Regions from separate parts of the Homo sapiens genome. Here region 2 is linked to region 1. Evidence: fine-mapped QTL for protein levels in blood plasma. A gene starts in region 1. The other region holds a variant in brackets. All regions are shown on one strand. Distances are between the middles of the regions. Region 1 holds the start of CCL21 (C-C motif chemokine ligand 21). Region 2 holds the start of SPATA31F1 (SPATA31 subfamily F member 1).

The links. A credible set is the group of variants that fine-mapping cannot tell apart. PIP is the chance, under the fine-mapping model, that this variant and not a neighbour inherited with it causes the effect. Protein levels are from antibody-based Olink assays in UK Biobank. Linkage for the fine-mapping came from a reference panel and not from the study's own genotypes, which makes the PIPs less certain.
Region 2: its variant is the best candidate, but not a certain one, in a credible set for the plasma level of the CCL21 protein (UK Biobank, PIP 0.83).

The regions. Positions count from the first base shown.
Region 1 is chr9:34,703,336-34,715,181 of GRCh38, forward strand. It overlaps CCL21 (C-C motif chemokine ligand 21), which reads right to left and starts at 6,801. Exons shown (of 4, transcript NM_002989.4): 1 at 6,665-6,801; 2 at 6,442-6,562; 3 at 6,165-6,347; 4 at 5,670-6,092. The coding sequence starts at 6,731. The coding sequence ends at 6,059. It also overlaps a transcript of PHF24 not described here.
Region 2 is chr9:34,722,789-34,734,634 of GRCh38, forward strand. It overlaps SPATA31F1 (SPATA31 subfamily F member 1), which reads right to left and starts at 6,700. Exons shown (of 4, transcript NM_001141917.2): 1 at 6,496-6,700; 2 at 5,821-5,866; 3 at 5,234-5,294; 4 at 265-4,200. The coding sequence starts at 6,639. The coding sequence ends at 444. It also overlaps a transcript of PHF24 not described here. The variant G/A (reference allele first, on the strand shown) is at 7,205.

The DNA.
Region 1 (11,846 bases):
TTTCTGTATTTTTAGTACAGATGGAGTTTCACCATGTTGGCCAGGCTGGTTTCGAACACCTGACCTCAGGTGATCCACCCGCCTCGGCCTCTCAAAGTGCTGGGATTACAGGCATGAGCCACTGCCCCCAGCCCATTATTTTTAATTTTTAAAAGAAAGGTATCAAAAGAAAGAACCCGACAGTTGTTGGTAATCACAGCCCTCTAAAAGGATATCATTAATAAGTAGGAATTGTGGCCAGCCAAAGTGTGGCCCAAGTATCCTGAAGGGAGGGGTTCTTAAGAAATCTGATTGCTTACTCTTTAAGAGTTTTTTTGTAGGCTACTTTGCCTATGGAGTAACCATTCTTTTATTCCTCTACTTTCTTAATAAACTTGCTTTCACTTAAAAAAAAGTTTCTTGTAATAAAATGTAGAGACAGGGCCTTGCCATGTTGTTCAGTCTGATCTCAAACTCTTGGGCTTAAGCCGTTCTCCTACCTCTGCCTCCCAAAGAGCTGAGATTACAGGTGTGTGCCACCGCACCTGGCCGACTGCTTACTTTGGAATTGGTTTCAGGTTTATAGGACTAACTGAGGCTTGTTTGTTTTTCACTGCAGCCTCGAACTCCTGAGTTCAAGAGATCCTCCCACCTCAGCCTCCCAAAGTGCTGGGATTATAGGCATGAGCCACGGTTCCTGGCCTGAGATCTATTAGCTCTAATTTTTTGTTTTTTAAAGGTGGGGTATTGCTCCACTATGATCAGCTATGGTGTGATCATAGCTCACTGCAGCCTCGAACTCCTAGGCAATCAAGTGATCCTCCCACCTCAGCCTCCAAGTCGCTAGGACAATAGGCCTGTGCCACCGTGCCTGGCTAATTCTTTCTTTTTTTTTTGTAGAGACAGGGGTCTTGCTTCGTTGCCCAGGCTGGTCTCAAACTCCTGGCTTCAAGCCATCTGCCCACCTCAGCCTCCCAAAGTGCTGGGATTATAGGCGTGAGCTGCCATGCCCAGCTAGCTCTAATTCTTTACTAGTCCCACCTATCCTCTATATCTGTATCAAAGAAGCCCTTAAAATATTGACAAGGAAGGAGTGAACCGGGAGAAGCAGGAGGAGATTCTGAGGCAACACTGACAAGTGGGAGTCAGCCCATGATTTCATTAGTGTGTGTGTGTGTGTGTGTATGTTATCATTTTGTGGAAGAGATAGTGGTGAAATTATTTAAAAACATGGTATGGCCAGGCACAGTGGCTCACACCTGTAATCCCAGCACTTTGGGAGGCCAAGGTGGGAGGATCCCTTGAGCTCAGGAGTTTTAAGACCAGCCTGGGCAACATAGTGAGACCTCGTCTCTACAAAAAATGAACAAAATTAGCTGGGTGTGGTGGTGTGTGCCTGTAGTCCTACCTACTCAGGAGGCTGAGGTGGGAGGATTGCTTGAGCCCAGGAGGTTGAGGTTGCAGTGAGCTGAGATTGCGCCACTCACTTCAGCCTGGGTGACAGAGCAAGACCCTATCTCAAAAAAGGAGCAAATAAAAACAACAAAAATACATGGTATTAGTAATTTTCTGGATGACACTGAGGAGGACTCATTGTTAGAACATAGTGATAACTCACTTTTAAAGCAATAAATTGCTTCTGTGGTTCTGTGATAAAGAAAAGTCAGGATTCCAGGGATTAAAATGAGTTTTCATGCTTAAGGAATGAAGATTTTGTAGATTTTAGAGATAATTCATCTTTAGGATTTTTTTTTTTTTACATCTCTAGTAGAAGTCATTGTTTCCCTGTTGGATACTGGCATATGAATATTCAGTAAATATGAATTTTTACTGTATTCACGAATAAGACATTAGAAATCCTTCATATTTATAATTTGATTTTATGCTTTGTATCTATTTTTATTGAAATATTTACGTGTCTCAGCAGTAGGCTTTTGGAAAGTTACCTTTATCTCCTCTCCCATTTGGGCTCTTGGGGGTTTATGCCTTTATTTTATTTTTAAAATTAATTTATTTACTTTGAGACAGGGTCTCTCACTTTTTAGCCCAGGCTATATGGCTCCCAGGCTCAAGTGATCCTCCCACCTCAGCCTCCTGAGTAGCTGGGACCATAGGCACATGCCACTACACCAGCTACTTTTTTTTATTTTTTGTACAGACGAGGTCTCATTGTGTTGCCCAGGTTGGTCTCAAACTCCTGAGCTGAAGTGAGCGTCTTGGCCTCCCAAAGTGTTGGGATTACAGGCGTAAGCCACTGCGCCTGGCCTTGCTTTATGCCTTTACACGCATACATGCACCAAAAAAATTTACTGTAGTTTTAGTCGGGGCTCAGTGAGAAGTGAAAATAAAGGCATGTAATTAATTTTCCATCCCTACCCTGAACTCCGATTTGTTTTTAAATTTAATGGTGTTGATCTTTAATGATTTACGTTTTATGGTTTTATGACTTGTTTAAGAAACTCTTTTTGGCCAAGCAGAGTGGCTCATGGCTGTAATCCCAGCACTTTGGGAGGCTGAGGCGGGTGGAGCGCTTGAGCCCAGGAGTTCAAGACCAGCTTGGGCAATATAGTGAGACCTGGTCTCCATTTTATTTTAAAAAAAAGTTATTTTATACCTCGAAGTTATAACCACATTCACCTATATTTTCTTCTACGTATATCTTAAACATTATGTTTTGAATCCATCTCATATGATGAAGAATTTGAAAGGCAATGTCAAGATAGAGGTATTTTAAAAAGGGAAGGGCATTAGAACCTTTAAGAAAAACAAAAAGATGAGTGACGAAGGAAAAGTGCACTACTTTTGTCTGCAGAGAACATTTATATAGTCAAAATAATGTAATATGTGATAATACATATTATGTAATAGTAATCCACAATAATATAAACTGTAATTATGATCTAAATATGGTAATATAATCATGATCTAAATATTATGGTATGACTATATTTAGAGGATGCAGTGACAGGAGAGGAGAGTTGGCAAGAGAGTTAGATCTTCACTTTTTATAGTAGGAAGTCATCTGGTAATGTTTAAAATAGGTAAATCAAGAAACAGAGGTATAGGCAAAGTACTTAGACATATGGCACTAAGAAATAGCATAGGAGTTAAAGTTGTAGGAAATTATGTTATTCAGAATAAACCTTTTGGTACTTTTGGATATATTTTTTAACTGTGAGTGTGTATTATGTGATATTTTTTGAATTATGCATCAAGAGAATAAGAGAGAAAAGAGAAAGAACAGGACAATGTTGTCAAAGATGAAGGCAGACAAGGAGAGTGGCCAGTCATGATCTGATGGAATAAATAATATATTGCATGCTTACTCAGAGCAGGGCTTGAGGCAAATACCAGGCATGCAGGTGTGGCAGGAGAATTTAGTGAAATAGAGAGTTTTGTTTTTTCTGCCTATGTTTTTCTTTTCACTATAGAGTAGGCAAGAGTTTTGGCAGGGCTGGGAGTGATGTCCTGATGTCAAAGGGAGCCTGACGTCAAAGGCCTTTTGTAAATGTCTTACACCAGGGGAAAATGCCGGGCATAGAGGCTCACACCTGTAATCCCAGCAACTTGGAGCCTGAGGCAGGAGGATCCCTTGAGCCCAGGAGTTTGAGGTTACAGTGAGCTATGATCCTACCTTTGCACTCCAGCCTGGACTACAAAGCAAGCCTTAAAAAAAAAAAAAAGTAAACTTGTAAACTTGGGGAAGAGGTTATGCCCTGGAGGGGCTGAGGAGAGGGAGACAATTGTTTAGGACTGCGAAGGGATTAGTGTGTACATCCAGCCAGAGTGGGCACTGGGCTCTAATTTCTGTCTGTGATGGGGCAAGTGACAGGACTGTTGAGTAGATGGCTTCGGGGGTATCTGGGGAGGTCAAGTCCAAGCCCAGAGGCTGTCATATCTGAATTCTTATGTCTCAAATGTGGAGTCTAGGACTTGAAGAGATATACCTGCTGGAACCACAGGGGTCAGAACACTCACTGGCGAGACTGATGTCCAATGATAGGATGGTGTAGGAGGCAGGTAGGAGGCCTCCCTTGGGCCTTGAGGTTTCTGTGACCTTTGCATAACCCTTGGCAGGTGGGATCCCACAAGAGTGCCTGATGTTGAATTTCTCATCAGCACTCTAGTGCAGTAGCTTGGAGTAGGAATTAAGTTCATTTAAGGAACATTTCAAAAGTAGTATTTCTTGCATATCTGAGTTTATAGATTAATTTCACACCTGCTGCCCTAGGACAGGCAGGGGAGAGGCCCTGTCTTCACCTGCTGCAAGAGGAGCAGACAAGCCAATACTTGAGGATGTTAGGATAGGTGGTAAGTGCTGTGGCATACTCAGGCTCCTACAGAAGGAAAAGTTGATGGAGCAGCCACTTCTAGCTTCTGAGGTTCCTACCTTTCTTCTTCTTCTTCTCCTCCTTTTTTTTTCTTTTCCTGAAATGGAGTCTTGCTCTTGTCGCCCAGACTGGAGTGCAATGGCACAATCGATCTCACCTCACTGCAACCTCCGCCTCCTGGGTTCAAGTGATTCTCCTTCCTCAGCCTCCCGAGTAGCTGGGATTACAGGCGCCCGCCACAATGCCCGGCTAATTTTTGTATTTTTAGTAGAGACGGGGTTTCACCATGTTGGCCAGGCTGGTCAGGAACTCCTGACCTCATGATCCGCCTGCCTTGGCCTCCCAAAGTGCTGGGATTACAGGCCTGAGCCACCGCGCCCGGCCTTGAGGTTCCTACCTTTCTTGCCCTTCCCCAGGATCTGTTCCCTTCTTTCTCACATTGTCTGGCCCAATCTGATGGCTTCTACTCTCCCCGCCTGGAGGTGATTTGGGGAATAGAAGGGTCTTCACTCTGGGGAGGAAGAGGTAGAGGAGAGCCATCTGAGGCCTTCCAGGAGAGGAGACTGATTCACACCTGAATCCTGGGGTTCTGAAAACCTGCCCCAGGAGACTTATTCCTTGACTTCAAAGGGTTAAATGGGCTAAAGTAGTCTGGATCCCAGCCAGGAAAGAAAGGAGGAAAAAAAAAGGGAGGAGGTTTTTCCATCTGGAAGGAGGCTGAGTGAGTCCAGGGGCCCAGATAGGAATAGAAGGAGAGCACAACAGCCCCATTAAACAAAGAGGAGAGGTCAAGGCCCGAGCTTCACTGAATAGGGCTGAAGCAAGTCCCCTCGGGTCTTTGCCTCCCAGGGGCTCTCTCAGGGCTGGAACTGTGCTAGGGCAGGTTTCAATATAACTTGTGTTTGTCTGTGTTATAGATGGGCCCAAGCCACAGCTTCCCTCCTAGGGACCCTTCCAAAGAACCACTTGGAGGGTCTCATTGAATAGTTCCCAGGGAAAAGAGAGGAAGCCTCTGGGATATCTGGGGAAAGGTCTGAAGGTCATGGAAAAGATCCGAAGGTCACCCCTGGAGTTAGTGCAGGACAGAATCAGGGTCTCAGAGGTCTGCAGAGCTGTTGGGGGTGTGTGCTCCATGTCCACCACCTCTCCATTGGCAGGATGCCTCAGAAGACTGGGTCCTACCCTGTCCTTCAGCCTCCCTTTAACTGCTCAGGGGTGCAGGCACCTGAGAGGCAAGGAAACTCTTGGGGTAGATGAGAACATAGCATTTTTCAGCCTGAGCTTTCGGCTCAGAGTGTGTGACCCCACCCTGTAGGAACCTTGGCATCTCGGTGGACATAAACACATGGGAACAGGTACTTGGGTGGGAAGACAGAACAGCTTTTTATTCAGTTAGGTATAAATCATATTTACAAGGAAGAGGTGGGGTGTACTGGGGAGCCGTATCAGGTCCAGGGTCCTGATGATTCTCCTTCAAGGGGACAGTCCTGCTGCCTCCTCTCATGCTCCCTGGGAGACTCTCCCTCCTCGGTCTCTCTGGACCTGGCCTGCTGTGGGCAGCTCAGCCATGCAGGGTAGAGCTGGGAATGCAGATGGGGTGGTTAAAGCAGGAGAAAGAGTGTGGCAAGGCCAGCATGGGGTGGCTGCTCCAGGGCCCCTGAGCATAGCCTCCTTCTTGCATCTTGGGTTCAGGCTTCAAGCGCTGGTGAGGCTGGTGGGGTCTCCAGGGCTCCAGGCTGCTCACTGGGCTATGGCCCTTTAGGGGTCTGTGACCGCTCAGTCCTGTGAGGGCAGAAGAGGGGTGTGAGGGGCTGACTGAGGCTCCCCTTTACCCACATCCCTCAGATTCCTCACCTCTTGCAGCCTTTGGAGCCCTTTCCTTTCTTGCCAGTCTTGGAGGCCCCCCTGTCCTTCCTGCAGCCCTGGGCTGGTTTCTGTGGGGATGGTGTCTTGTCCAGATGCTGCATCAGCTGCTGCACCCAGAGCTCCTTTGGGTCTGCACATAGCTCTGCCTGAGAGCGCTTGCGGGGCAAGAACCTGCGGGTGGGGGCTAGTAAGCCTTCTTAGTCTTGCCCACCATGCCCTCCCCACCCCGTCACCAGCCAGTACCCACCCCTTTGTGTCCACTCACAGGATAGCTGGGATGGAGCAGCCTAAGCTTGGTTCCTGCTTCCGGTAGCTGCGGACAACCTTGGCGGGAATCTTCCTTTGGCTGTACTTGAGGCAACAGTCCTGAGCCCCTCCATCACTGCCTGCAGGGTGGGATTCACAGGGAGCCAGGGGCTGCTGGCAAGCTCCTATCCAGGCCTCTTGATCCCCTTAGCCCCATGCAAGGCCCCTCCCTGCCTTGGTACCTTGGGTCCTGGGGATGCCAAAGGCCAGAACCAGGATAAGGAGGCTCAGAGCCAGTGACTGAGCCATGTCTGTGGTAGAGGGTGAGTAAGAGGCCAGAGCTGAGGGTGAGGTGGGCAGCTGCAAGTTGGGGGTCTGTGCGTGGGCTGGGATTGGCCTGCTATTTATGTAGCTAGACACTTTCACTTCCCTTAACTTATCCCCACTCCTTTTCCTTCCTGAAAGCTGGATTTGCTGGCACCCAGCCCCACTTATCTCAAACTAAGTGGACAGTCCTCAGCTGCCAAATTTTATGTCCTCATTAGTTGAATATGTCTGGGCCTGAGCCTTCCTTCTATTCCCAGCTACTGCTTTCATGCAGGCCTCACTGCCTCTCCCCTGGAACACCATGACTGTCTCCTCACTACGCTCCAGGATCCATACCCTTCCCCTCCTTCCAGCAAATCTGATTATTAAATTGTAAGAGTTCTTTTTTTTTTTTTTTTTTTTGAGACAGGGTCTAACTCTGTCACCCAGGCTGGAGTGCAGTGGTTGATCTTGGCTCACTGAAATCTCCGCCTCCTGGGCTCGAGTGATCCTCCTACCTCAACCTCCCCAGGAGCTGGGACTACAGGCAAGCACCACTGCGCCTGGCTGATTTTTCTATTTTTTTTTTGTAGAGACGAGGTTTCACGATGTCTAGCCCAGGCTAGTCTTGAGCTCCTGGGCTCAAATGATCTGCCTGCCTCAGCCTCTTGAGGAGCTGGGACCACAGGCACATGCCACTACGTCCGGCTACTGTTTTCATTTTTCATTTTTATTTTTTCTAGAGATGAGGTCTTGCTATGTTGCCCAGTCTGGTCTTGAACTCCTGGGCTCAAGCGATCCTCCTGCCTTGGCCACCCAAAGTGCTGGAATTATAGGTATGAGCGACTGCACCTGGTCTGTAGCATAACCATTTTGATTCCCCTTTGCTTTCCTTTTCTATATATTTTGTAGTTATTTTCCTAATGGATACCTTGGTGATTATAATTAACATTCTAAACTGATAACAACCTAGTTTGAATAATACCAACTTAGTTTCAATGGTATATAAACATTTTGCTCGTATACATTTTAGTCCCTTCTTTATATTGTTATTGTCACAGATTACATCTTTATACATTGTGTTCCCATTGACATAGATTTATAATTATTGTTTAATGCATTTTCCTTTTAAATTATATAGAAAAAAGTGGGGCTACAAACTAAAAATACAATACTAGCTTTTATCTTTTTTTTTTTTTTTGACACAGGGTCTCGCTTTGTCACCCAGGCTGGAGTGCGGTGGCACAATCTCAGCTCACAGCAGCCTCGACCTCCTGGGCTCAAGTGATCCTTCCACCTCAGTCTCCTGAGTAGTGGGGCCACCATGCCTGGCTAATTTTTGTATTTTTTGTAGACACGAGGTCTCACTATGTTGCCCAGGCTAGTCTCGAACGCCTGACCTCAAGCAATTCACCCGCCTTGGCCTCCCAAAGTAATGGGATTACAAGTGTGAACCAGCATACCTGGCAATGTTGTTACTTTTTTTTTTTTTTTTTTGAGACAGAGTCTCACTCTTTCGCCCAGGCTGGAGTGCAGTGGCGTGATCTTGGCTCACTGCAACCTCCACCCTCCGGGTTCAAGCCATTCTCCTGCCTCAGCCTCCCGAGTAACTGGGATTATGGGCACCTGTCACCACATCCAGCTAATTTTTCTATTTTTTGTAGAGATGGGGTTTCACCATGTTGGCCTGGTTGGTCTCAAACTCCTGACCTCAAATGATCCGCTCACCTTGGCCTCCCAAAGTGCTGGGATTACAGACATGAGCCACTGCGCCCAGCCTGCTATGTTGTTATGTTTATCAGAGATCTTTGTTTCTTTGTGTGGCTGTGAGTTATTATTTTTTGTCCTTTTGTTTCATTCTGAAGGTCTTCCTTTAGCATTTGTTTGTTTGTTTGTTTGTTTTTTCTTTCTCCCGTTAGCTTTTCTTGTGGGCAGGTCTACTATTAATGAACTTCCTAAGTTTTGTTTATCTGGAAATGTCTTATTTCTCCTTAATTCTTGCAGCATAGTTTTGCTGGATATATAGAATTCTTGTTTGACTTTTTTTTTTCTTCAGTCTTTAAATATATCCCCCATTGTCTTTTGGCCTCCCATGGTTTCTGAAATCAGCTGGTAATCTTATTGAGAATCTCTTGTACATAATGAGTTACTTCTCTCTTGCTGCTTTTAAAATCTTTGGGTTTCAACAATTTGACTATAATTTGTCTTGGTGTGGATCTCTGAGTTTATCCTTCTTAGAGTTTGTGAACTTCTTGGGTATGTATATTCATGCTTTTCATCAGATTTCAGATGTTTTGTCATTATTTCTTCAATTTTTTTAATGCCCTGTTCCCTCTCTTCTCCTCCTGAGACTCCTGTGATGAGGTACATTTGATGGTATCCCTGAGGCTCGTTTATTTTTCTTCTCATACTTGATAATTTTAATTGTCTTATCATCAAGAATACTGATCCTTTTTTTTCTGCTTAAATTAGTTGTTGATTGCCCCTAGTGAATTGTACATTTCAGTTATTGTATTTTTGCTTCCAGAATTTCTGCTTGAGTCCTTTTTTTCTTTTTACTAATTTCCATCTCTTTATTGATAGTTTCATTTTGTTCATACACCATTTTTCAGATTTCCCTTAACTCTTTGCCCATGGTTTCCTTCAGCTCTTTGAGCATATTTAAGACAGTTATTTTTTTTTTCCAAAAGGGCCATTGTTTCCCAATTTAATTTGAGGTCATAATAAAACAAGCAACAAAGCAGTATTTGAGATTTCAGCTTCTCACCCTTATCATCAAACCTCCCATCATCAATATTTATTGAGCATTTACAGTAAGACAGTTAAAGTCTTCATCTACTATGTCCAATATCTGGGCTTCCTCAGGGATAGTCTCTGTCAAATTCCTTTCTTCCTGTGAATGGGCCATACTTTCCTATTTCTTTGTATTAGTAATTTTTTGTTGATAACTGGGCATTCTGAATATTACAGTGTGGTATCTCTAGAAATTCAATTTTTTCACTCCTTAGGGATTGCTGATATACACTTGTTGAGAACTCTGCCATCAATTTGTGGTGACTTTTTCAAACGGTTTTTTGCAAAGTGTGTATTCTTTGTTTTGTGGGGTTACTGAAATTTCTGTTTATGACCTGACAAAGGGTTCTCTTCCTTCCCCGCAAAAAGATTCTGTCCCTTTAAATCTTCTGATATATGTGGCTCAGGAAGATCCTGAAGCCCAAGAGGGCTGAAACAAAGCAAGCCTGTCCCTTAGGGAACCAGAAGACAAACCCAAATGCAAAACCCCTCATTTTTGGAGGACAGGGTTCCCCCTGCCCACTCAGTGACCACCCAGCTACTTCAGGAATGTGGGCTGCTATCCCCACTGTGTTGGTTGGTAGCTAGTGCATGCATTATGCTCTCTTCTGAAAGACCAGCAACCTCTCCCTTCATCAAGTACCACCCCCCCTGCTTGTTATAAGTGTCCAATCGGGCTCCAGACTTCTGAAAGAGTCGATTCCAATTGCTCTTTCCACCTCAATAGTTGCTTTGGTGGAGGGACCAACCCCTATAACTTCTTACTCTGCCATTTTGTATGATGTTTTTCTGTAGTTTAATTTTTAACATTTTAAAATCTTTTATCCATTTGGAGTTTATTATGGTATATGATGTGTGAGGGTTATTGGGTCATAACTTAGAATCTATATTTAATACTGGATTGGGACCTTAGAGTTGTAATCCTCACGTCAGAGCTGGAGAATCCATCTGGTTTCCAGAGTGCTAAACTCAGCAGCAAGCTCCTTACATCTTGTTTTTTGAAGGATGGCTTATGACAGGATAGGGAAACCATAGGAAGAGGAGGAAATGAGTGTCAGGAGAGATGTAGTCAGGACAGCCATGGCCAGAGACAGAAATATTGGGTTGCTCTTGGGGAAGGATGGGATGCAGAAGGCATGGGGTTGAAGATGGAGGTACTGTTGGGAGGGGGATAAAGAGGTGGTGTTTCATTCTAAGGTCCACAGAGTAGAGGGGCTGGAATTTGGTGGCCTAGAGGAGAAATAATTGAGCTCTTGAGTCTGAGGTTTTCAGACTCAAGAGACCTTAAGGCTGAGACCTTAAGCAGGGCAGGGAGTGACTCTGTTGGCAAGAAGCTGGTGTTCCTGGAACAAGACTAGGCAAAAACAAGGAGATAAGATTTCTTGGATCTTTTACCTGGTCTAGAGGCAGATCCTGGAACCAGAAAGTTTTAAATTCCCAGCTCCCTGGTTTCCCCACCTGCCTAATGGGAGTGACTAAGAAAGTAGTGAGCAGCCTGTCTCTGAGGAATTCTCAGACAGATAGAATAGCATGGGCTTGGGAGGGGGCATGCAGATAATTCCGAAGTCATATTATATTAGTTTGCTTCCAAACTTGGCTGCACTTCAGAATCACCTGGGTGACTTTTTAAAAACAGAATTAGAAGCAACACGCCAGACCGCCTTAAATAGAATCTCAGAATAGAGCCAACAAATGTGTATTTTTACCAAGTTCTGCAGGTAATTCTAAGCATTTGGTGGGGTGGGGCTGGGAGAGCCACTTGGGCCTATTCTGCTCCCCATCCCACACTCTAGATTGACACAGAGCCGGTGAAAGGGAACAAAGTTGGTCTGGGGAAAGGAAAGCTGGAGTGATGCCCCCTCTACCTCCCCTGGAGGAGGAGACTTTCTCGCCTGGCACAGATTGTAGAAAAAAAGGAGAGATGGCAGGGAAGAGGAGGGGGCTGTACCTTTTTCTTTCCTAAAAGCTTAGGCTTGCTTTCTCTCCAAGATACCTGCCTGTCTCCCTTACCCTTATTCATGCCATGAAAGAAGCTTCTTGTTGTGTCAGATGGTGTGCACAACCCCCTAGGTCCCATCTCTGCCTGGTCTTCCTAGATGCAGGAATCTAGGTTGATTAGGCATCAACCCTAAGCCCCTGCCTGTGAACTTGAGCCTGCAGTGGTAGAGCAGTCTCAGGGAGATGTTACATCCTGGAGATATTGAGGTCTGTCTGCTTGGTGCTGGAGCTTAGAATCAAGGTTAGGAGCCCTAAGGGAAATGAAGGAAGCAGTAGGGGCTTTTCTGGAGGTGGAAACCTGGCTGGACAAAATCCAGCGCAGAAAAC
Region 2 (11,846 bases), 19 kb after region 1:
CTATGCATTAGCCACTCTCCTAGGCCCTGGAGTTATGGGACAGTGGAAAATATTCTGGTGGGATGGATGGTAAATGTTCAGAAATCAAGCATGACCTTTAACTTCAGTGCACTCTAGATAAAAGCTTTTCTTCTTTGATGTGGAATGGTGACCCATCTGAAAGGTAAGTTAAAGCTCCTTCCCTAGACAGGAAGGACTTTTTAGCCTCCCTCACACCTTCCCTTAACACAATACAGCAGAGACAAGGAGCAGACAGACAATGTATTGCTGAGAAATATAGAGTGTATTTCTAGTGGCATCTGTCCCACCTGCACATTTATGGAAATGACAATACTGGTCCTCTGGAGGGCTGCAGCAGTTGGGGAGCCTATAAACTCTTTTTCATGGCTCTGCATGTTCTCCTTGAGCGGACCAATGTTTCTATCTGAGGTGAGGGTCAGGAGCTAGGTTGGGTGCCCTGGTTTGTTGGCACAAGCCTCTCGAGGACAGTGACGAGGGCAGTGGCGGGGGTAGCCCAGGGCTGAGGCAGAGCCAGGTTGTCTGGAGTGTAGCCGGAGCTTATCGTCTAGGGATTGGGGACCATCCAAGAAGGCTGGGCCCACCAGCTTCTGAGCAGGACGAGATTGGGCCTTGGAGCACCCTGTCGGCTTCTCCGTCTTACTTCTCCCCACAGGGCTCTTGGCTGGAGCCAGGCTCTTTGCAACATTTTCTTTTCTGGTTTTGGCCACCTTCGCAGCGGCTGAGAACATGGAGTCCTCATGCCCTTTGCCTTTTGTCTTGGGGTTAATATGCTGCAGAAAACATTTAATTTTATTTCTGAAGCTAGACTCTGTAAGGCTGGGCTTCTTTTGAGCATGGACTGGCATCACCAGCCCATGCAAAACTTGGCCTTGCAAAGTTTGGCCCTGCAAAGGCTTAGCCTGAGTTGGTTGGCTCAGGAAAGGCTGACCCTGTGAAGCCTGGGGCAACACAGTCTGGGCATTCTCAGGAATTGTCGCTGGTTCAAGGATGACAGTTAGCTTGGTTTGACTGTCTTGCAGGTCCTTCTCAGACTCTTTCTCCCCAGGGACTCGTGGAGGTAGCTGTGGGAGCTTAAGCTGAGGGTGATGCTGGGGGCTGTGTTGACAGGGATCAGCAAGATGAAAGCTACGGCTCCATCGCCAGGACCCTCGGGGTGTCTTGTTTGGAAGCATCCCTGCTGGCCTCTGGTCTTCAGCAGGGCGTCTCTCTTCTCTGGTTGAGGAGCGCCCAAACCCCGCATCCCCTTCTCTGTGGTCCCTGGCTGCTTTGGTTTCCTCTGGGTCCTCTCTGTTTCCTGCTAGCATGGGGACATGGGCTGGGTCCTTGCTCTTGCTAGGGCTTTGAGGCTCAGGGCCACAGGGTTCCTCCAGGCTGGGTTTGTTCACATTGGCCTCTACCTGAACACAAGGCATGTGGGCCTCTGTCATGTCCCCACTGGGCTGTGAGATCTTGGAGACCGAGTGGGCAGAACCCTGGGGTACAGCTTTGGAATTGGATTGCTTTTGGTTCTGCTGCACTGCCTTCAAGTCATTGGCCAGCTGTTCTTTAAGGTGAACCCCTTCTGGATTAGGGGCAGGAAGAGTGTCTGGTGGGATGGGCAGTTCCTGGAGCAATGTCTCCCCTTGGTGGTTTAGACTTTCAAGAGACTTCTGTGTGGATATGTTCTCTGGTGCTGCAACAGTTTGTTCCCTGGACTTCCTTGCCCTAATGGGAATTCCCCATTGTATCTCTAGGACCTTTTTTCTCAGGTGGAAGTTTAGTTTGGTCAAGATATGTGTCTGGAGTGAGTGGGGGCTAGTAGGATGCGTCTGGCTTTCTAGAGGCAGCGTCTCCATTGTTCCTTTTACTGGCACTGCAGGCTGGAACTCTTTTGCAACGTCTGTACAACTCTCATTGTTGCCTTGAGGGCATGGCCCAAGACTTATACACTGTTCTTCAAATGAAACCATCTGAATCAGAGGCTCTGCTGGGATTTCCACGGGACTAGGCTCCATCTCTGTGATGACAGATTGGCTAGTGACTGCCGGGGCCAGGGCCCTGGGGAGCGCCACATAATACAGAGCAGGCAGCCCCGACAGGAAGGCCAGATGCTTGTGCCGTAAAGTTGTCTCCAGTTTCTCAATGGCTTCCACAGACAAGACTCGGAGCAGCTTAGGGTGTTCAGTGACAGTACCTGGTAAAGCCTGTTGCTGCTGATCAAGGGCCGTTGGCATCCAGGGCATAACTTTGTGATGCAGGTCCGGGTCACTTGCTGTCTGCAGTTCCAGGAACTGGCTTTCTGGAATGCAGGGAAAAGGAGCCACTGCCAGGACCCCAGAAATTCTGCAGTCCCAGGACCTGTGTACACAGGCGGGGATCTTGCCCTGGTGGATTTGTCCACATTTGGAGTCGATGTGGCTCTGCAGTATTGCCTTGACCTGAGTTAACAAGTGTGGCCTGGGGATGGACACTGGGGCCGCAATGGGTGACAGCACATCGCAAGCCCCGTTGGCCTCTAGGGCTACAGGCTGGGGGATGCTCACGTTGGCTAGGGCTGTGCTGCTGCTGGACACAGTCTGCTGATCAGTGGAGGTAAGGAGCAACTGGATGGACTGCTGGATCTTCTGAGGCAGGCCCCAGCGATGGCGAATCAACTGTTTCTGGATGTGGAATTCCAGCAGCTTCCGGGCATGCTCCGGGAAGAAGAGTAGTTCCCTGGTGAGCACTGAGATGGACTTCCCTGTCTGGGAAGCTGTCGTGGTCTCAGGAGACTGAGCTTTGCCACAGGGCTCATGCTGCATGAGGCACTGGGTGTGCTGAGACCTCTGGAGGGCAGCTGGCCAGCCCCACTGAAGCTGGAGTTGCCTCTGTAGCAGGTGCCACTCCAAGGCTTCATACTCAGCCAGAGTCAGAAATGGGACATTGATCTGAGCTCGTTGATGGTCAGATGGAGACATCCAGTTTGGGGAAAGTGGGGAAGAGGGTGGGGCTGACTGGGGTGAAGTTTTAGGGAGCAGTTGGGGGAAGGAGAGCTCATTGAAGAGAAAAGGATCCTTCAAGGGGGGCTTGGGCACATTTTCAATCTTGGGGAGGCCTTGAGATCCCATGAAAGTGGCAACCAGGGACTCACTGTGCAGAGAAGGGAGCCCACAGAATAGCTGGCTGTATTTCTGCTGGAGATCACTCCCTGAGTCATTATCTTGTCCCCCAGACTGTGGATGGGGGCCACTTAGGGCTTTAAGGGCTGGAGAGGGCAAGGCTAGAGCCATAGGGTTTGGAGTTTGCTGACAGTGGTGTCTTTGTTCTGGGTTCATTGTGGACCATTCAGAAACCCAGAAGGTCTGGATGGGCTGGCCAGCCACACATGAACACCAGGTCTGGAGGGAAATGGTCTCAAATCTATGAAGAGAGACCTGAGGAGTATTCTTCAGGTTGAAAGAAACTGGCTGGTCATTTCCAGGTTGGTAATACAATGGTGGGTTTGGCATAAGCTGCCTCAGGGACTCCTCCACACGTCTTGGGAGCCCCCACCTCTGGAAATGCATCCATTTTTTAACATGTACCTCAAGAAGCCTCAGCACTTCAGGACTGAGAAATGGCAGGTGGGCAGGGAGGACCATATGCAAGGCCATTGGATGCATCCGGTTCAGGGTTTCTGGGTTCAGGGACAGCAAGGAGACCTGGGAATTCAAGTGATGCTGGCCTTGGTTTCCCTGGACAAGGCTGGGGTTGCTCTGCGTCATCTCCTCCTGGTTCAGTGGAGCCCTTGGCTTCTCAATCCTTGAAGAAGCTATGGTGTTTGGGCCCCGGAGCACATCTGGCACTTGAAATTCCTGCCCTAGCTGGAGGTGATCAGCCCAGTAATCTTGTATGCCATCTGCATACGTTGACTGGGCAGCTGACTGGGTTAAAGATTTCTGATCTGTTAATTGTGACAGTGTTGGGGTTACAGATGACAGTGAAAGCTCTCTGGTGTGCCAGGAATGAAACTCCAGACTCTGATCTAAAGACATACTAGACGTAGACAGCATCTCTAGGCAAGAGGAGCCCTGCAATGGCCCCGATAAAGTCAGGGAGATCTGGTTGTTCTCACCCACCAGCAATTGCTGAATCTCCAGAGCCACAGAATTGCAGATTTGGCAGCAGGGATCTGCACACAGGATTCGCCGCACACTTCTCTCCAGAGGAAGCCAGCCCTGGCTAGGAAGGGAAACACGGCAAAATTAACGATGGAGTGACATCTGCCTTCTTGGAAGAGTGTGGGCTGGAGTGGGCACTCTCCTTTCCCAGTCCTGAAAACCCTGGGGCCTATACCATCTTGTTGTCTACCTGTCTGCTTTCCTTGCTAAGAAAATGCCATTTGGCAAGGTGTGGTGGGCTGGGCTGATGGTCTGGAGCTTGTTGGGCAAGGCCTCAGACAACCCATGGGAGGGCATGGCCCTCAGAGAGGGCTGGGAGTTGGAGTCAGTTCTCTGTTGACCTTGTTGAAAAGCTGAACTAGGAGAATGGAGCTAGGCAGTTAGCTGATGGGGCATCACCAGGAACATCACCAGTTAGAACCCAGACCAGTCTTATTTGAGGCTAAGAAATCCAAAGCCTGTATTCAGTACTTCCAAGCTGTAGAAAATGAGGTCCTTGTGGGACTTCTGCATTCTGGGGTATTTGGTACCCGTAATGTTATACCCAGCATCTCTTCGGAACCAGTCCTGTTCTCTAGAGCTCTTAAGGAGAGGATAATATAATAGACTCCTGTCTAAGGAGTGTCCCAAGTACTGGCCTCACTGAAGACAGAACCGGAGGAGGTCATGTCAGCAGAGTCTAGCCAGAGTCAGGTATTTTCCCTTGAAAGGGTATAGCTTTATTCCCTTGAAAGAGTATAAAGAGAATAAGACAAGGATGACTTCTTTATTCAAAACCCATTCTCTTAACTGGGTAACTTATCTCATGGCTGAGTGCAGCTCCATGTAATATGTTTTATGAATTATACACTAGTAAAATCCTGAATTGTAGAACTGCTGTTACCCTAGCACAGAACTGAACTGGGCAGCTCATCTCTCCTGAGACATGTGAACCCCACTCTTCCCTGGCAACCCTCTCACCCAGTGTCCCTGCTTCCACTGTGTATGTCTCCCTCCCAGCCATTATCTTTCTCCTTAGTCCTGCCCCAGGCCAAGCCAAGAAATCATCATAGGCCAGGCTGGTTGTTGATAGAGTGCAAAGAGCAATAGATCACCTTTTAATGATGGAGAGCAGCTTCTGTGGCTTCTCAGCTTCTTCCCGGGAACGTCTCCTAGCTGAGGAACGGGGAGACAGTGTTATATGGCATGGGATAATTTCATAGGCATCCTATAGGAAGCTGAATAGTAAGGCCTTTGACTCTCATCAAGAAAAGACTACAATCCTGAAAAGTCCGTACTCTAAGGCATGTCTGAGTACAGCATCGCTGTAACACAATGTCCCATATCTAATTTCATTTGATTTTTACAACCACAATGTGATTGAGGCAGGATTGTCAGTGTTTTGCTCATTTTGTGGATAAGAATGAGAGATGAAATGACTTCCACAGGGTCATAAAACTAGTAAGTTATACAATTAAGAACATCTGCTCTACTTTCTTAATTCTTCATTTCCAGGGCATTGAGGTACAGGATTTTGGAACATTCTCAAGTTATGATTTCCCACCCATGGAAATTTCAGTCTGGGGAACTGGAGTCTTCAGTGGCAGAGCACCTGGCTCTTGGCTCCAGAGGTCACAGAGGGACAGGATTCATGGGAAACACCCACAGTGGAAGGGAGTCAGAGGAGAGATTGGGACTTTACCTGTTGATGCTGCATCTCTAGCTCTTTGCCTGACTTTTTGGTGACACTTAGAAGACAAAAACATTAGAATGTGAAGCTGGGACACCATTTTCTTTCTCATGTCCAAAATGAGACAAAACTTACATACATTTTTCACTCGCTTTGTATATATCTATCTGTATTTTATACACTCTCCTGGACTTCCTTTGCCTATTCCACCTTTTTACCCCATTTTCCTTCTCTGCTTATTTTGGATTCACTTGGAGGCTTTTCCAAATTCTATACCTCCCATCTGATTCACAGAGAAGTCCTGCTGGATGCTGAGGATGACACAGGAGGAAAAGCAGAACAGACAAAAGGGTAAATGGTTCTAACAACCAAAGGACTTCTGCTTACAAAGCCCACCAACCGGAAAAATCCCCCATATTCAGAGAGCTTCCGAGATCCAGCAAGATAGACTTCATATTATCTAGTTCTCAATCCAAACCAAATAGAGAGGTTCTTGGCTTTTCAATCAGACTATGTTGCGGGAAGGGCCTGGTAAGGAATTATAGTCTCTGAGAAGAAAAGTATTACACAAAGGTAACTGAAAGTATGCTATAAAAATTCTGGGGTGGGGATTATAAGGGAGCACGGTAAGAACTTATAGGCTTCTTATCTGAGGCTTAATTAGTTCAGTTGGGATCACAGCCCTACCCGGCAGCAGCTCCTTTTAGGTTCTGAACTCAATTCATGGTGGCTCCTTTTCACTTGCCAGATAATTACAATAACGATGAAGATGGAGCCATAGATGTATAAGGGATATCCAACTTCCCACAGAACAAAAGTAGGGCTCAACATGGTCTAAACTTCATTAGCATGAGATCAACCATCCCTCTATCTCGGAATTCAGGGTTCTGGTGCCTAATGAATCCCAGTGCTAGGCCTTGTCATGTCCACCTCACAGAGGACGGAACTAGGCCACCAGACTGCATCACAAAGCCCTCCTGTTTCATAAGGTACATGTAGTAGGGAAGCTCATGTGGTGATTCAGTCTGTAGATGAGGGTGTTTTGAGCCTGGGACTGAAGGTGCCACAAGCAGTGTCTATTTCCTAGTCTGTCTTCACTTTCCACTCCCTATACCAGCCTGATGCCTCGGCTCTCTCCTTCACAACTGTATGGTCACCTGTCCTCAGAAAACTGAGTGCTTTGGCACAGGGGTCACCTCATAAGAAGGGGTAGATAGGCCGGAGGAACCTCCACTAACTCTCCCACTAGTTTTGGTAATATACCTGAGAAACACACATGAATTTAGGGAGGGCGGAGTCTGGTTATGGCTTGGAAATGGAGATCTTTGATGTTTTAGGCAATGGGTGATTGGTAACAGAGGTGCAGGAAGGGGACCATGGCTGATGTGGTAGGGTG[G/A]TAGGGAGAGGCCAAGGTGGTTGTACGTATCTGGTCTGTGTGGCCTCAAGCTTGCAGATGGGTTGGGACTGTAAATGCTACCTTCCATGGAGGCACATTCATGCTCAGGGAGATGAATGCCTGCAGAGATGGGTTAGTGGCCGCTTCTGACTGTGGGTCACAAGTGACTAGTTGCTGTTCATGGTTGGATGTATGCTGTTTGCCTGAGGATGTTTTTTTTGTTTGTTTGTTTATTTTTCTCAAATCTGTATTTTGTAAATTTTTAGGCAGGGCATGTGTTTTCCAATTCAGCTTCAGGACCCATTACTTCCATAGCCAGACTATTGATTTACCTGCCTAGCTTTTGTAGATATTGTGATATGCCACCAACACCTCAGTATTCCTGAATTTCCTTGAGAGAGTTCTGCTCTGGTAATGGTGGTCTCAGGCCAAGAAACCTTTGGGCTGAAAATCTCTGAAGAGGCTTTGGTCCTTCCTCAGTATCCAGCCCACCCAGCAGATGTGGTAAGCACCCAATATGTGCTCAGCCCTAAGCTGGGGAGTGTTGAGGATACAAAGACATTTGAGCCGCATTGGCTTTCTGCTTTCAAGATACTTAAAAATGTAGTTTCAAAGACAAGACTAATTCATACAAAGCAAGAGCCAACAATCACTACAAATAGACTTATATACTCATTCGTAAGGCTCTGGCCACAAACATTCCATTTCAGAGAAGAGAAATCATAGTGAGGATCATGGTCATCAGAGAGGGCTCCTGGGTAGTCGAAGTTAAGTTTAACAGTGCAGGTTGTGGGTAAAAGGACTCTTCCTGGTGGGAGAAAAACTTACCAGCTCATGCTGAATCTAGGGAATGGGCCATGGAGTTCATTTGGCAATAACAAATGCAGTGTATCTCTAGCAGAATATAGAAGGGTGGACTGGAGAGCAATTGTGAGAAAGATTGGAGGATCAGGATAGAGGCCTCTTGATGGAGGGAGGGCCTTTGTATCTATTTTATTTCAATCCCTAAGACTATTTTTTTTAAAGTAAGCATACTTACACATGGCACAAAATTTAAAAGGCAGAAGAGTGTATAGCTGTCTCTCATCCCTGTCTCCTCCTATTTTTCTTCCTCGTGTATCTCTCTTTTAAAAAATGTTTTATTTTTATTTTGTATGGGTACATAGTAGGTGTATATATTTATGGGGTATGTGAGATATTTTGATACAGGCATACAATGCATAATAATCACATCAGGGTAAATGGGGTATCCATCACCTCAAGCATTTATCGCTTCTTTGTGTTACAAACATTCCAATTATACTTCTAGTTATTTGAAAATGTACAATAAATTATTATTGACTGTAACCACCCTGTTGTGCTATCAAATACTAGGTCTTATTTATTCTATCTAATTATATTTTTTGTATACATTAACCATCTGCCCTTCTCCCACCCAAACCCCCACACCTCACCCCGCTACCTTTCCCAGCCTCTGGTAACCATCATTCTATTCTCTATCTCCATGAGTTCAATTGTTTTAATTTTTAGCTCCCACAAATGAGTGAGAACATGCAAAATTATTTTGCCATGCCTGGCTTATTTCACTTAATATAATGTTCTTCAGTTCCATTCATGTTGTTGCAAATGACGGGACCTCATTCTTTTTTTATGGCTGAATAGCACTCCATTGTGTATATGTACCACATTTTCTTTATCCATTCATCTGTTGATGGACATTTAGTTTGCTTCCAAATCTTGGCTATTGTGTAAATATAGGAGTGCAGATATCTCTTCAATATACTGATTTCCTTTCTTTTGGTTATTGGTTGTATACCTAGCAGTGGTATTGCTGGATCATATAGTAGTTGTATTTTTAGGTTTTTTTTTCTTTTTTTGGACAGGTTTTTGCTCTGTTACCCAGGCTGGAGTGCAGTGGCGTGATCATGGCTCACTGGAGCCTCAACCTCCTGGACTCAAGCAATCCTCCTGCCTCAGCCTCCCAGGTAGCTGGGACCACAGACATGCACCACCACACTTAGCTAATTTTTGGATTTTTTTTTTTTTTTTTGTAGAGATGAGGTCTCACTTTATTGCCCGTGTTGGTCTTGAACTCGTAGGCTCAGGTGATCCTCCCACCTCGGCCTCCTAAAGTGTTGGGGTTACAGGCGTGAGCCTATTTTTAGTTTTTTTGGGGAACCTCCATACTGGTCTCCATAGTAGCTGTACTAATTTACATTCCCACCATCAGTGTACAAGGGTTCTCTTTTTCTCCACATCCTTGCCAGCATTCATTGTTACCTGTCTTTTGGATAAAAGCCATTTTAACTGGGGTGAGATGATATCTCAGTGTAGTTTTGATTTGCATTTCTCTGATGATCACTGACATTGAGCACCTTTTCAGAGACCTGTTTGCAATTTGTATATCTTCTTTTGAGAAATGTCTTCTTTTGACAAAAGATCTTTTGTCCATTTTTCAATAGGATTATTAGATTTTTTTTTCTAATGAGTTGTTTGAGCTCCTTATATGTTCTGGTTATCAATCCCTTGTCCAGATGAATAGTTTGTAAATATATTTTCTCCCATTCTGGGGTTGTCTCTTCACTTTGTTGATTGTTTCCTTTGCTGTGCAGAAGCTTTTTAACTTGATGTGAGCCCATTTGTCCACTTTTGCTGCTTTGGCTGTCTGTGCTTATCGGGTATTGCTCCACAAAGAAATCTTTGCCCCTAGATCAATTTCCTGGAGAGTTTCCTCAATACTCCTGTATCTTTCAGAATTAATTTAGCATGGGAAGCATAAATAAATTGATATATTTTCTTCATAAATGGAAACATGCTAGATACTGTTTTCCCTTTTCTTTTAGTTTTAATTATTATGAATATATCTTCTGTATATAATTTTCTTTAATGTTTGTACAGTCTTCTTTGGTAAAACTATAACATGACTTATTTTCAATCCTATATCCGTGGATATTTCTTTAAAGTTTTTTTGTTCTACCAAATAACACTGACATGAACCTCATGTGTATAAGTTCTTGTACACTGGTATGAGTATATAACTAGGAGAAATTCCTAAGAGTTGAATTAATGGGTCAAAAGGTGTGTGTATTTTAAATGTTGATATTGCATAATTGCCTACCAATTGTATGAATTTGCACTCTCACCAAAACTCTGTAAGGGTGCCTCTCTTCCTATGCTTGTTGACTCAATATTATCAAATTTTTGATCTTTGTCGATATGAGAAGTGCAAATTTGTATTTTATATATTTATAAATGTGTTTCAATGTATGATAATCACCTTTTTGCTTCTTTTCTGTGAAATATCTCTTCCTATTCTTAGCTCACAGATTATTGGGCAAAAATCACTTATTGATATGTAAGTGTTTTTTAATATTAAGAAATTATATATGTATCAGAAATACTTTTTCTCAGTTTGTCATTTGATATTTATAATGAGTTTTTGCCACATGTAAATTTTTGGATTTTATGTAGTTGAATTTATTAGTCTTTTATTTTATGGCTTCTGTGGGTCTTTTTTTTTTTTTGAGACGGAGTCTCACTGTGTTGCCATGATGCTGGATTTCAGTGGTGCCATTATGGCTCACTGCAACCTTGATCTCTTGGGCTCAAGCGATCTTCCCACCTCAGCCTCCCTAGTAGCTGGGATCACAGGCATGTGCCACCATACCTGGCTAATTTTTATTTTTATTTTGTAGAGATGGGGGTCTCCTGTGTTGTCCAGGATGGTTTTGAACCCCTAGTCTCATGCAATCCTCCTGCCTCGGCCCTCCAAATTGCTGTGATTACAGGCATGTACTACTGTGCCCGGCCATGGCTTCTGTGTTTTAAGTCACACTTAGAAAGGTTTTTCTCTTCCTGAAGTTATAAAAAAGTTCCAATTCTTCAGGTACTCATGGTTTCATTATTTTTGATAAATGAATGAAGTTAGAACCTGTATTAGTTAAGAATTACACTGAGGTACATCTAACAGAGATTCAACTACAAAATAGGGTTTCTCGGGCTTCTGGATTCCTTAGAAAGGAAAGTTGGAAGTAGCATTACTTTCACTCTTACAACAAAAGAAATCACACATACAAGAAGAAAAGAAATCACAAGACACTGTAAATTCACAACTTTTCTTGAATTTGTCAGCAAGCTGAAGTTCTAGGTCAACTCAATTAACCTTAATCTAAGGAAAGACATCTTGAAGGAGATGTAGCACAGGTGCACTTGCTTATTTGGAGCCGACTCCCCCACTTCCCTCCCATCAAGCTTGTAAGAATCCAGATAAAAGTTTTAATGAATTGCTAAAGGCCAACTGTAGCCCAGCGTGAGAATACAGAAATGCTGGGACTTACAAGTACAGGGAGAATTCACACTCACTTGCAGGGTCCTTTCCACGAACCTTAGTGTGTATTCACAAGAAAGACTGGGGGTAGTGTGAGAGTCCTGAAAAAATATCACTCGTGGTACAGGCCTGGGGAAAAGGAAGAGCAGCTGCTGAGGGGAAAGGCACCAAGCCCTTCCCAGATTCTTCTCCCTTCTCTTCCCTATGGAAACAAAAGCCTTAAGTTGCTAGATGAAGAGCAGTAAGTCCTGTCGTGAGGCCATAAATCACGTATAGGTGAAGACCCATTGCAGCTGGAAAAAGGGAAAAGAAAAA